Regions from separate parts of the Homo sapiens genome. Here all the other regions are reported to be linked to region 1. The links are microRNA targets in miRTarBase. Many come from high-throughput screens and were not tested one by one. Region 1 holds a microRNA gene; each other region holds the end of a gene's coding sequence.

Region 1 (4,196 bases):
TCCTGCTCCCTGTGCACACCATGAATCTGTCCCGTCCTCCCTGTGCCTAGCCACGCATCCGCAGACCCCCACCACCCCTCCAGAGCCTGCTGTGGACGGCTCTTCTGAGCTTTGGGGCAGCTGCTCTGACCTCACTTTTCTCACCTGGAAAACCCTCATCCACAGGGAGACTTTGCCCAGGCTGCCCAGCAGCTGTGGCTGGCCCTGCGGGCACTGGGCCGGCCCCTGCCCACCTCCCACCTGGACCTGGCTTGTAGCCTCCTCTGGAACCTCATCCGTCACCTGCTGCAGCGTCTCTGGGTGGGCCGCTGGCTGGCAGGCCGGGCAGGGGGCCTGCAGCAGGACTGTGCTCTGCGAGTGGATGCTAGCGCCAGCGCCCGAGACGCAGCCCTGGTCTACCATAAGCTGCACCAGCTGCACACCATGGGTAGGACTGAGCGTGGGGCGGGCTCCGAGGTGCTCCCTGCTGCCTGTGCTCCACCCACAGCCTCATGCCTGCTTGCCTTCCAGGGAAGCACACAGGCGGGCACCTCACTGCCACCAACCTGGCGCTGAGTGCCCTGAACCTGGCAGAGTGTGCAGGGGATGCCGTGTCTGTGGCGACGCTGGCCGAGATCTATGTGGCGGCTGCATTGAGAGTGAAGACCAGTCTCCCACGGGCCTTGCATTTTCTGACAGTGAGTGGGTTGGGGGGCTGGGGGCTTATCCCTGCAGCTCTCTCCAGAGGCTCCCTGGGTAAGAGCTACACGGGATGTGGCAGTGGTTACCAGGGGGACTCCAGGCCAAGCTGGGACTCGGCCCGGGGTCTGGCCCCAGGCTGTGTCCACTGTGACAGCCCAGTACCCTCCCCTACAGCGCTTCTTCCTGAGCAGTGCCCGCCAGGCCTGCCTGGCACAGAGTGGCTCAGTGCCTCCTGCCATGCAGTGGCTCTGCCACCCCGTGGGCCACCGTTTCTTCGTGGATGGGGACTGGTCCGTGCTCAGTACCCCATGGGAGAGCCTGTACAGCTTGGCCGGGAACCCAGGTGCTCTCTTACCCCTTCCCTGTCCCCTCTCCTGTCCCTCATCCTCATTCCTGTCCTGTCCCTTGTCGCCTGAATCTCTGGCTGTCTCTGGCCACCCCAGTCCTTCTCCCTGCCATGGGTTGTTGCTGTGGGGGTTGCAGGAAGGGAAAGGCCTGGGTGCCTCTCGTTCCCATTGGGGCTTTCAGAAGCACATGCAGGGATTGATGGGCAGATGGCTAATTGGAGAAGTGACCCCAGGCAGTGCCGCTGTGGAGTAAGGAAGCGGAGCCAACAATGGCATCTTCTCAAGTCGGTTTTCCTTTGGAAGCAGTGTAGGGCAGGCCTCAGTGTTGTCTCCTGGCCAAGGCTGGTGCTGGTGATAGTTATGTCCACCCGCTTTCCCCTGTCCTTGGCAGGGGCTGCACCCAGGGGCATGCCGGCACTTCCCAGTGGCCCTAGGTGTGGCCCCAGCCCACCCAGGAAAAAGCCCTTAGCTTGGAGAGGAGGGTGGGGCCCTGCTCCCCACCCCACTCACCTCCTCCTCTCCACAGTGGACCCCCTGGCCCAGGTGACTCAGCTATTCCGGGAACATCTCTTAGAGCGAGCACTGAACTGTGTGACCCAGCCCAACCCCAGCCCTGGGTCAGCTGATGGGGACAAGTAAGTGTCGTTGTGCCCTCCTCCAGGCAAGGCCCCTCCGGCGGGATTCTGAGAATAGCTCTGGCCTCAACCCTGTGGAGAGAGCCCAGAGCTGGGCTACCGTGCGTGCCATGCACGCTTCATTCCTCTCTGAGTTTCCTCTCCCCACCAGCCTGTGGGAGGAGACAGTGGCACTTTGCAGAGCCAGGGGCCAGGCTGTACTCTGGAGGGCAGGTGGGGAGCACCCTCCTAGGACCCCTGCCATCTGTTCCGACAGCCAGCTCTCTCCTTCCACAGGGAATTCTCGGATGCCCTCGGGTACCTGCAGCTGCTGAACAGCTGTTCTGATGCTGCGGGGGCTCCTGCCTACAGCTTCTCCATCAGTTCCAGCATGGCCACCACCACCGGTGAGTCCCCGGCCCCTGTCCTGGCTCCCTTCTCAGCTCCCCCGTGCAGCGTGACTGAGGGTTCAGGGGACCCTCCCTCTTCTGCAGGCGTAGACCCGGTGGCCAAGTGGTGGGCCTCTCTGACAGCTGTGGTGATCCACTGGCTGCGGCGGGATGAGGAGGCGGCTGAGCGGCTGTGCCCGCTGGTGGAGCACCTGCCCCGGGTGCTGCAGGAGTCTGAGTGAGTGCACGGCAGGTTCCTCCTGCCTGGTCCCGGGCTCAGCCTTCCTCATCCCCTGGGCACTGTGCCTCACTCAGCCTTTGTTCTGTGCAGGAGGAGTCACCACCTTTTTTCCTCAGGGAACTCGAGCCAGGGAAGTGGGGGGCACTCAGCCAGGGCTTGTGGACTGGTCTGACTGGCACTCTTCTGCCCTGGTCCCAACAGGAGACCCCTGCCCAGGGCAGCTCTGCACTCCTTCAAGGCTGCCCGGGCCCTGCTGGGCTGTGCCAAGGCAGAGTCTGGTCCAGCCAGCCTGACCATCTGTGAGAAGGCCAGTGGGTACCTGCAGGACAGCCTGGCTACCACACCAGCCAGCAGCTCCATTGACAAGGTGAGGGGTGGGGTCAGGGGCCTGGCAGGGCTGGGGGATTCAGCTTTCCATTCCCTGGTTCCTCTCCCCAGCCCCCAGGGGCTGCAGAAGACCATGGGGTTAGCCCAAGCAGCACAGGATAGGGGGTCCAGCAGACCCTGCTTTTTGGCTAAGGCTTCTGTCCAGAGGAGAGGGGTTGCCCCTATCTGGCCTCAGTTTCCCCATCCCTGGGAGGAGGGGGGTGGATGGTGTGGTAGGATCCCTTTGGAGGCCCTGCATCAGGAGGGCTGGACAGCTGCTCCCGGGCCGGTGGCGGGTGTGGGGGCCGAGAGAGGCGGGCGGCCCCGCGGTGCATTGCTGTTGCATTGCACGTGTGTGAGGCGGGTGCAGTGCCTCGGCAGTGCAGCCCGGAGCCGGCCCCTGGCACCACGGGCCCCCATCCTGCCCCTCCCAGAGCTGGAGCCCTGGTGACCCCTGCCCTGCCTGCCACCCCCAGGCCGTGCAGCTGTTCCTGTGTGACCTGCTTCTTGTGGTGCGCACCAGCCTGTGGCGGCAGCAGCAGCCCCCGGCCCCGGCCCCAGCAGCCCAGGGCACCAGCAGCAGGCCCCAGGCTTCCGCCCTTGAGCTGCGTGGCTTCCAACGGGACCTGAGCAGCCTGAGGCGGCTGGCACAGAGCTTCCGGCCCGCCATGCGGAGGGTGAGTGCCCGATGGCCCTGTCCTCAAGACGGGGAGTCAGGCAGTGGTGGAGATGGAGAGCCCTGAGCCTCCACTCTCCTGGCCCCCAGGTGTTCCTACATGAGGCCACGGCCCGGCTGATGGCGGGGGCCAGCCCCACACGGACACACCAGCTCCTCGACCGCAGTCTGAGGCGGCGGGCAGGCCCCGGTGGCAAAGGAGGTGAGGGGGCAGCTGCTGACCAGGGATGTGCTGTCTGCTCAGCAGGGAAGGGCGCACATGGGATGTGATACCAAGGGAGGCTGTGTGTGTGTCAGACGGGACAGACAGGCCTGGCGCAGTGGCTCACACCTAGCACTTTGGGAGGCTCAGTTGGGAGGACAGCTTGAGCCCAGGAGTTGGAGGCCGCAGTGAGCCTGAGTGACAGGGAGAGTCCCTGTCTCAAAAAAAAAAAAAGACCAAGCATCTTCTTGATGGTTACCTGATGACAATTCCTTTCACAAGGAATCAGTGGGGTGACTGTCATTTGTGGGATACATGACTGCACGTGCGTGACTCAGTCTGTGGACTTTGTGTGTGGGCTGAGACTAGGGTGGGGAGAGGGGAACCCGCCAGGCCCCCGCCAGGTACCTGTGTGCCAGGTACAGGCGGCTGGTGCCGTGGCTTGTGTGTGGGCAGGGCTCCCGCGGGGGCGTGGCCAGCTTGAGACCCATCCCTGACACATCCTCGTGTGCGCAGGCGCGGTGGCGGAGCTGGAGCCGCGGCCCACGCGGCGGGAGCACGCGGAGGCCTTGCTGCTGGCCTCCTGCTACCTGCCCCCCGGCTTCCTGTCGGCGCCCGGGCAGCGCGTGGGCATGCTGGCTGAGGCGGCGCGCACACTCGAGAAGCTTGGCGATCGCCGG
Region 2 (4,196 bases), not on the chromosome of region 1:
ATTTGGGATCCTTCCACAAAGTAACCTCCCCACCCTCAAACTCACATGTATGCAGTTGTATATTGAACACAGAAAAGAATTTTGTTGGCAACCATTTTACTTTGAACATGGTATAGGGAATGAAATATTCTTTTAAACAGAATCTGGGTACCACTAGTTGATGTGTTGGTTGCTTTTAGGGAACTGGATGTGTGTATGGGGGAGAGGTATAAAGAGGGCTCAGCCGTGTCATAGCCACTGCTATCCTAATTTATTGAGTCCTCATAATTGGTTATAAATTCATTTGTTTAGCCAAGTTACGAGGAAACAGAGACATGTATACTTCTCCTCAGCTCTAGCTGAAGGTAAAAGATGACTCTTTGTGTGTCATTAAGTTAGACCTTTGCTTTCTGCCCATCCTTACTACGTAAGACTCTCTTCACGGATTACTTGGCCTGCCTCATGTTATGTCAAAGAGCCTTATGTTTTTCTGTATTTATTCATAAGTCAGATATAACTTGCTCTTTAAGGGAAAACAAAATTGTCACCTAAAAGCCTAGCTGGAGTGATACAGGATGGTGACTATCTGATCGGTAAAGGGTGGCACCAAATAAATGCCACTAATTGTTTGAAAGATTAGATGTCTCGCAGCTGCTTAATAAGATGTAATAATAACATCATTGCACAATAAGAAAATCTACCAAGGATGAATGAAATGATTTCATTGTGGACACTTGTGATTTATAATAGCATGTTTAAATTTGGCACATTTTGATCATAATCATGATACCTATATGTATTTTATTGCAGGGAATGGAATATGTAGCTGTGGAAACTGTGAATGCTGGGATGGATGGAATGGAAATGCATGTGAAATCTGGCTTGGCTCAGAATATCCTTAACAATTACATGAGAGAGGTCTGGATTCTTATTTTTTCTGGGCCATTAGAACAGATAAATGCGAAGGAAACCATGTATATTCACCACTAGGACAGGTTAAAAAGACCATTGTATGTTTTTCTATTTCTGAATTACGAATGAAATCCGAGTACCTATTAGAAATGAGTTATGCAAATTTAGATGCAAATAACATTAGAAAAAAAAGATTCTTCCATAATTAACATAAGTGGTTCCTAACGAGAGCAATTTTTCCACCCAAAAGTCATTTGGCAACATCTACAGACAATTTTGATTGTCACACTGGGTCGGGTAGGAAGGTATGCTGCAGACATTTGGTGGGTAGAGGCCAGGGATGCTGCTGAGCATCCCGCAGTGTACAGGACAGCCCCCAAACAAGGAATTATCCAGCCCCAAATGCCAATAGGGCTCAAACTGAGAAACATTGAGTTATATGGCTATTAGAAATCCACATTCTTACACAAGAAAGACCATATTAGAATCTAAGGAAAACATGCATATTCACATTAATTAATCGATCAGATTTTTCCAGAATTCCGTATCAGTCACCATTTTAATATGGGGACAATGAAGACAAGCACACAGGAGGTAGAATATCAGAGTGGGGCTGGATCAAGGGCAAAAACTGGTCATTAAGTCATCTGACATTAAATCATTTAGCCACTAAGTTATTTGTCTACTCTCACTTTAAACTCACCAAAGAAGATTCTCTTAAAGAAATTATGAAAAATGTACAATTTAACATTTTAAATAAATAGTGACAGAAGTTGTTTATACTCTGTGTCAGTATATATATCTACTGATAATTAAAAATGAATTGTTATTCAGGGATATCTATTTTAGGTTTCTAGAAATAAGGGATCACATTTTTAAAACTGGGCAGGGGTTATGCGTACAAGAAATCTGATTTTTTATTTTAATTTATTCCATGGTAGTGTGGCCTTTTAAAAAGACAATATTGAGTTACATATAAAATGGGCCTGAAGTATGCATCCATTTCCCTTAAAATACTTTTTTTTCTAAGGATACCTTACTTACTGGAAACCTGGGGTCATGCAAAGAAGTCAAGACGAGAAATACTGTGATAAAATGGCACCAATCTCAGAAGCTCACAAAAGACCAAAAAAAAAAAAAAATCTAGAAATGGCTTAAATAGAAATTACAAATATTCACTCAGTGATAGGAACAAAATGTTTATTTTCTTAATGGTGAAACTTTGCTTTGTATGAAATTCACATTGAATTATGAAAGTGTACAATAATTGGGACTTCCCTTACATATTTACAGGTAAATCTACTTATACACATTAGTTTAGGCAACCTTTAATTATTTAGAGCTAAAAAAAAAACCACTTTTTTTCTAAAGGTGAATTACTTTGTAAAATCCTAGAATAATGTAGCAAAATCATTTCCGTATTACTTTAAGATGAAAATTTTTACTTGGAAATTTTATTTTAATGATGTAAATATTCTAGTCATGGCTTAAACTTTATAAGTCAAATTTCCAAAAATAAGGAAAATATGCATCCACTGAGTTACTTAAAAATTTAATATTGAAAATTATTTTAAGAGAACATTTAACTGATCCTGATTTTTATAGTACTAACAATGTTCTCATAATGTAATAGATTTATAAAAATTGTTATCTCTATCCTGAGATTAAGGAGTGCAACCATGTTGTAGTTCTATTATTGAGTACGTAAATTGATAGATCTCTTCCGTAAAATGAGGGAAATATAAGTAGTCAATAAATAATGTAGGTTATATTCTTTCCTCTTCACTACCTAAACATTTTAAGCTGTGAACAACCTATTATTATTGTTTTGTAGCAATTTTGATGACGTATTCGCTGATGCACAGACATTGGAATTCATTACATTATCTAGCCATCGTAATACAAATGACCTTTGGATTTCTCTATCACGGCGCTTATCCTCCTATTAAGGATCAGAAAGTTAAACTTTACGGACCACGTACGTCCCTGTCTCATATTCTTCTTTGTTGGTTTCTGTTTAATACTTTAAAGCTGTAAAAAAAATTTAAAAAATTCCTTCTGAGCTCCCAGGCCATACAAAAGCAACTTAAGGGTGGATTTGGCTGGCAGCTGGGCAGTACTTTGTCAGCCTCAGCTCCACTGGAACTGCCCTTGATTCTCTATAGCTCATCACAAAACCTCAGGTATGTCTTATTTTTCTTATAATCCTCTGTATGTTATTATCCTTTTTATTAACAACAACAACTACAACAAAAGTGCTGCTCTTTTTCATAGTCTCATGTAAGAAGAGTGTCAAAAATGTCCTCGGCATTTGTTTTCTCAGAAAAAGAATTTAGATATTGGAGAAATTATCATACCATAAAAAGTTCAAAATGTGATTCATCTAAAATTTTGGACAAAGATGAAAATATAGTCAGCTCTGTTCTAGTGTTCATTTAGTTAGAAACCATAGTACCGGAACTGTATTATAGTAGAAGTTAATGGTACCTAAACTCTAAGGAATGCTTTTTCTTTGAAAACAGAAATATTTTTACTTATTTCTGTCCACTATGTTTGTGTGTATGTGTGTGTTTGTGTGTGTATGTGTGGTTTTGATGCCAGCAATGCAAACACCAATATATCTATTAAGAAGTGATTGAATTTAGATTGGAAAAAATAAAATAGTTACATGTAAAGACATAAACTCTTTCCTTCTTAAATGTGATTTTCAACTCTATGATAGAAACTCCCTCTAAAAAACAAGCAGGGCAAGAACAAACTTACTTGTAATGGGTGAGAGAAAATAAGCAAATCTCATTGGCTCATTCCTGTTTTTAGGAAGTTGCAGTGGGATTAATGTCAATTGGAAGGGATGCAGCAAGTTTAGAGAAGGTGTTGGCACTAACGCTGCTTGTTTGGCAAATCATCATCACTGAGGTATTCCACCCAGAGACTTTTTCAAAAAAGTCAACTAAAGTGCTAAGTCATAAGAGGAGAGCCATTATACCCGTTGTCTTTCTGGGCTCCTTGAGTTTATCTGGATTCCAACAGCACTTGGAAAGTACCGCCCTCCACTACCTCAAATGCAAACACAATCTCTGCCAGTAGACATTGGAATTAGACTTAGTGAAAACCAGGAAAAAAAAAAAAAACTAAAATATAACTCAGCCTTAGTTTGCAGACTCAACTGTCAACACTTTGAAACCCTACTCCATATTCAAGAGAGTCAACAGGCCCTATGTCACATTGTAGGCTAAGAAACCTCAGCTATGACTACTATTTCACTCAAAGTAAGACCATGTACATCCTGGATTTTGATATGCCTG
Region 3 (4,196 bases), not on the chromosome of region 1:
ACAAATAGAGACAGCCTCTTGTACTTCCTCAAAAGGACTGTTTGACAGGGATTCTTCAAGTAGCAAAATAAGCAGACATCTCTTTCTGAAACTGATTCTTAATGAGCTATGAAAAATACATTTACATTTATCAGCACTGCTCATATGTTGTCTGCACAGCACTTATTACAGGAAAAAAGGAAGGAATCACCGATATTAGTATCATTTCTGTTTCCATATCTACTTCGCCTTCCTGCTCACCATTGCCACCACCCCCAGCACCTTCCCAGTATAACTGCTACATTGTGTCCTTATATTTTTGGTTGAATAAACAAAAGGACACTGAAGGCTGCCTTTGTAGCTTCCCCTATACCAAGTGAACATTTATTAAATAAGCTCAGCTACAGAGCATTTTCAGAAATCTCAGTGCAGCTTCATAATCATTAAGCAGAATATTTATCTAAAAACCTCTAACACTTAATACCAGTTACTCAGTATCTTAACCAACATGAAAATACAAAACAACCTTTTATTTTCAAGTAGTCCCCTCAGTTCTCTTTTATGATTAAGGGAACATTTGAATCTTTTCTAAAGTTTTTCCTTTTGATCCAAATCACTTCCCCTCTACTTTTCTAATGGCTTTATAACCCTTCAACAGTAGGTGGTGCCACAAATGCACAAAAGTAAATTTCTGTAGACCAACAGAACTGTCACAGCTTTATTTTGTGACTCATTATATTACAACATAGAAATATGCATTTTAATACTTCATATAAAGTTATTGACATACAAAATTTTTTTTCTTTTTTCCTTTTAATGAAAATGATTTAACTTAGAAATCTGTTGTGAAACTTTTGTCTAGTTTTGCAATTCTCAGATATTCCAGTGCAAAAATAGATCCCATTACAGACAGCGTAAAGTGCTTGGAATGAGGGCCAATGATGAACAAAGAGCACAAAAACAGCTTCATCTTAGGGTATAAGAAGGGATAATAGCATACCTAAATCCTTATGGAAATAGAAACATTCTAAGGGGGATGCAACAATTTTGAAAAGAATTAGAGCAATATTTCTACAGTATTACATTATTACTAGTAGATAATAACAAGGGTACAAATTAATGTCTCAATATCAAAGTGGTTCAGTATTACATGACACATGGCTCTTTGGAAAATATTTTACCTGATATATACAACCACAAGAAGAAAACACAGACAAATGGCTTTAGTCAATGATTACTATACAGTGAATGAATGATGTGCAACATTTAATAGTCACAAAGCATTTGCTTTCAGTACAGATAATGAAATACAGTAGTGTGAGGTTTGGTTGTTTTTTAACAATGAATTGTGCTGGGCATTTATGTATAGAGGGCTTATTATTTTCTTCTGTATTTCTCATATTCACAGTTGTTAATAAGTTTTCTGAGGTGTCCCAAAGATGCAAAAGCAGAAATTTTTGAACACGTATTTTGAGAATTTCTGAAACTCACATAGGTACATTCCACAGGGAATATACAGAAATTTTGCTTGATTGAGTATAGAGTTGGTAAAAATTTCTACCACAATTAGGTTTACACAGGAAAATGTAAAAAATTACTATTTTAAAAGGTAACACAGTATTAATGAAGATGTATAACTATAGATTGTTTCTAGCTTCAGAAGAGGTCCTTTCAATCTGTATTAAAATGTTGTGTTTTCTTCAAAATAGTTCACAGTGCCTTTTGATTTTTTAAAATATGGCCTTGAAATCAGAGGAACCGAAGTAAGGAGTTGCTCATAGATTTACTATAATGAAGAATTAGAATACGATTTTAGTAAAATGAGGAAACCATAACTTTGATTTTGAAAAATATTAAATGAGGAGAAATTATTCTATAAATTCTGTATTTTTGAAGATACTGTAAAATGCAACGATGCCATATCACTAGTTATTGGAAATATGCCTTCATTACTTATATTTAAAATCAATATTGACTTTAACTTCTAAAACAATCATTTTTTTCTTTTTCAGCAGTGGGTTATATAATATTCTGTAAATTTAAAAAATATAGAAAGATTAATTTGAAATCTGAAGTCTTACACCTTTAGCGTTAATATTCAAATTCTGGAAAAAGTGGAAGAAGTTAGTAATGATATTGAAAGATCACTTGAACTTCCCCAAACAATAGTTCTCTCATATTTTTCTTTTCTCTCAAGACAGTTAACAGTAAGTATTAGTGAAACAGTATTTTTACAAATGTTTACTGACTAGAAAAATAAGACTGGGTTAGAAAACTCTGAAAAATGCTCCATATGGAAGTATTTGTTGTTTTTATATTTTTCTTGACTAGTGATTGAAGAGATGAAAAATTTGAGACTGTCAGATTTAATGGGGTATCCAATATCTGCAAAGCCAATTATTTGAAGGTACTAAATGCCATAAACACAAGTTGTGTTTTTCAGCAAGTTTTCAAGCTAGCTGTTTTCCCTGTTGAAGAATTCATTGTTTAGACTTGTGACCCTTATACTTTCTTGGCTTTTGCATTGTTGCAATTAAAAAAAAAAAAAAAAAGGCTGCCCAGTATTGTTACAGTGGGCTCCTACAACCACAAGACAACCTATATTTGTAAACCAGTGAGCTGAATAACATGGCACAGGAAGTGTACTGAGACTTAATATCTCTCTAGTCTTATACGTACGTACATACTCTTTCAGCTACAGCATACACTCAAAAAATATTTGATTGATGAAGTGAGATTAAGAGTATCCTAAATGATCTGAAAGAAACTCAAATATAATGTCATGAGATCCTGACCATCACATTGCTTTCTAGGCACTAGTCATGACTGATATGCAAACTTACATAAGAAAATAAAAATAGTGGGGCAGTGGCCATACTCCTCTATACCACAGGGTTCTACAAAGAGGCCATTCTAAGGATTCAGAAGTCACTGATAGAACTTAAAATTCCAAATAACATTAAAAAGTACAAACATTTTTGTCAAAATACAACTCCATCTTTTCATTTTCTAGATTAATTCAAAAAGCCAGAAATAATACACTTGTGTCAGATAAACATCTTGAGATGCAGTGTACCATGTTAGCAGACAGTCAGGACAAATGGGCACAGGCTTCCCTAGGTTTGAACGCACAATCTCTTTAATCCCATGCCCTGGCTTCAGCAGCTTGCAGCCCCAGCAGTTTGGCTGTTGATTCTTTGCCTCTTACCAGGATCTAAGTATATTTAAGAGTCTCATAAGGATGACCCTGTAGACCCATGGCTCGAAGCATAGGACAATATAACAATGGAACCAAGTTTCCCGTGCCTGGAGACACCCACATTTTTGTTGCATGTTACTGCCACCAGAACAGCTTATCAGAGGGAATCAAAGCAGGATGTTAGCCACGCATGGCACCATTCTGTCAACTGATATTCAATGTTGATAGACTCTGAGCAGAGCAGCTTTCACAAAAGTGAGCATGACACACCATGGTGCTTCAAACTTTCTGAAAAACTTGGCACTAATAACTCTGGCACACTCATTGCCAGCAATGGATGTGTCACCGGGAAACCAGTCTCCTGGGCATGGCATGGCTTAGTGAATGAGGATGTGCATTACCTTTTGATTTTGATCAATAATCGCTGGCCATGATTACTTGATGAATTATTGTTGCAACCCCAATGAGAATACACAGGAACAAAAAAAAAAAAAAAAGTGTGAGTTCAAACCCATATGTCCATTGGGTTCCATAATAGAGTTTCACATAGGTATAGGTAAAAAACTAAATTCAAGTCTTTCACTTGAGAGCCATACAAGACATAGGCTACAAAGGCACTGCCCCTGTAATGGAATTTTGTTTTCATTGCATTGAATTGCATTGCATTGAATAGTATCAGTACAGTATCCAGTTTACTTCTTCCCACATCAACTTCTGGCTCTTTTCTCCACAACACTTCACATGGTGCAAAGGAAAGTCTAGTTCCTCTTTACTTTCAGCCACCCCGTATGAACAGGATTCTTCATACATAGCTTTCTTTCACTTTCTCATCCTGTAGAAAAGATGTGAGAACTGCAACGTCCACTACTGTCTGGTTTTTGTGTAATGAGAGGTCTTTTAAGTGGTCATCATCACTTTGGTCCTTGGCAAAGTTCACAAATACCTGTTAAAAGATTAAGATGGACCTTTATAAATACCACTCAACTTGCTCATTCTTTATTCTAGTTCTATTTTTCCA

The links. The annotated mature microRNA hsa-miR-33b-5p reads GUGCAUUGCUGUUGCAUUGC and lies in region 1 at 2,968-2,987, shown strand. An mRNA with a match to its seed (bases 2 to 7 or 8) in the 3' UTR can be bound and repressed. Matches are read on the target gene's strand: a 7mer-m8 pairs with bases 2 to 8, a 7mer-A1 pairs with bases 2 to 7 and ends in A, and an 8mer does both.
Region 2: miRTarBase lists ITGBL1 as a target of hsa-miR-33b-5p. The part of its 3' UTR that is shown has no 7-base or 8-base seed match.
Region 3: the mRNA of ABCA1 is a reported target of hsa-miR-33b-5p. Seed matches in the 3' UTR shown: 8mer at 3,839-3,846, 8mer at 3,834-3,841, 8mer at 3,824-3,831 and 8mer at 2,499-2,506.

The regions. Positions count from the first base shown.
Region 1 is chr17:17,812,688-17,816,883 of GRCh38, reverse strand. MIR33B (microRNA 33b) reads left to right here and starts at 2,953; the gene lies at 2,953-3,048. SREBF1 (sterol regulatory element binding transcription factor 1) reads left to right here. Exons shown (of 19, transcript NM_004176.5): 10 at 166-427; 11 at 511-677; 12 at 856-1,024; 13 at 1,555-1,663; 14 at 1,940-2,049; 15 at 2,137-2,269; 16 at 2,474-2,639; 17 at 3,115-3,315; 18 at 3,405-3,516; 19 at 4,033-4,196. MIR6777 (microRNA 6777) reads left to right here and starts at 3,339; the gene lies at 3,339-3,404. RefSeq lists an enhancer at 3,569-4,127.
Region 2 is chr13:101,714,774-101,718,969 of GRCh38, forward strand. It overlaps ITGBL1 (integrin subunit beta like 1), which reads left to right. Exons shown (of 11, transcript NM_004791.3): 11 at 790-1,673. The coding sequence ends at 881. FGF14 (fibroblast growth factor 14) reads right to left here. Exons shown (of 5, transcript NM_004115.4): 5 at 1-4,196. Among named protein-coding and RNA genes, the nearest start is that of FGF14, 200 kb to the right of the region's middle.
Region 3 is chr9:104,780,335-104,784,530 of GRCh38, forward strand. It overlaps ABCA1 (ATP binding cassette subfamily A member 1), which reads right to left. Exons shown (of 50, transcript NM_005502.4): 50 at 672-4,121. The coding sequence ends at 3,981. It also overlaps a transcript of NIPSNAP3B not described here. Among named protein-coding and RNA genes, the nearest start is that of NIPSNAP3B, 18 kb to the left of the region's middle.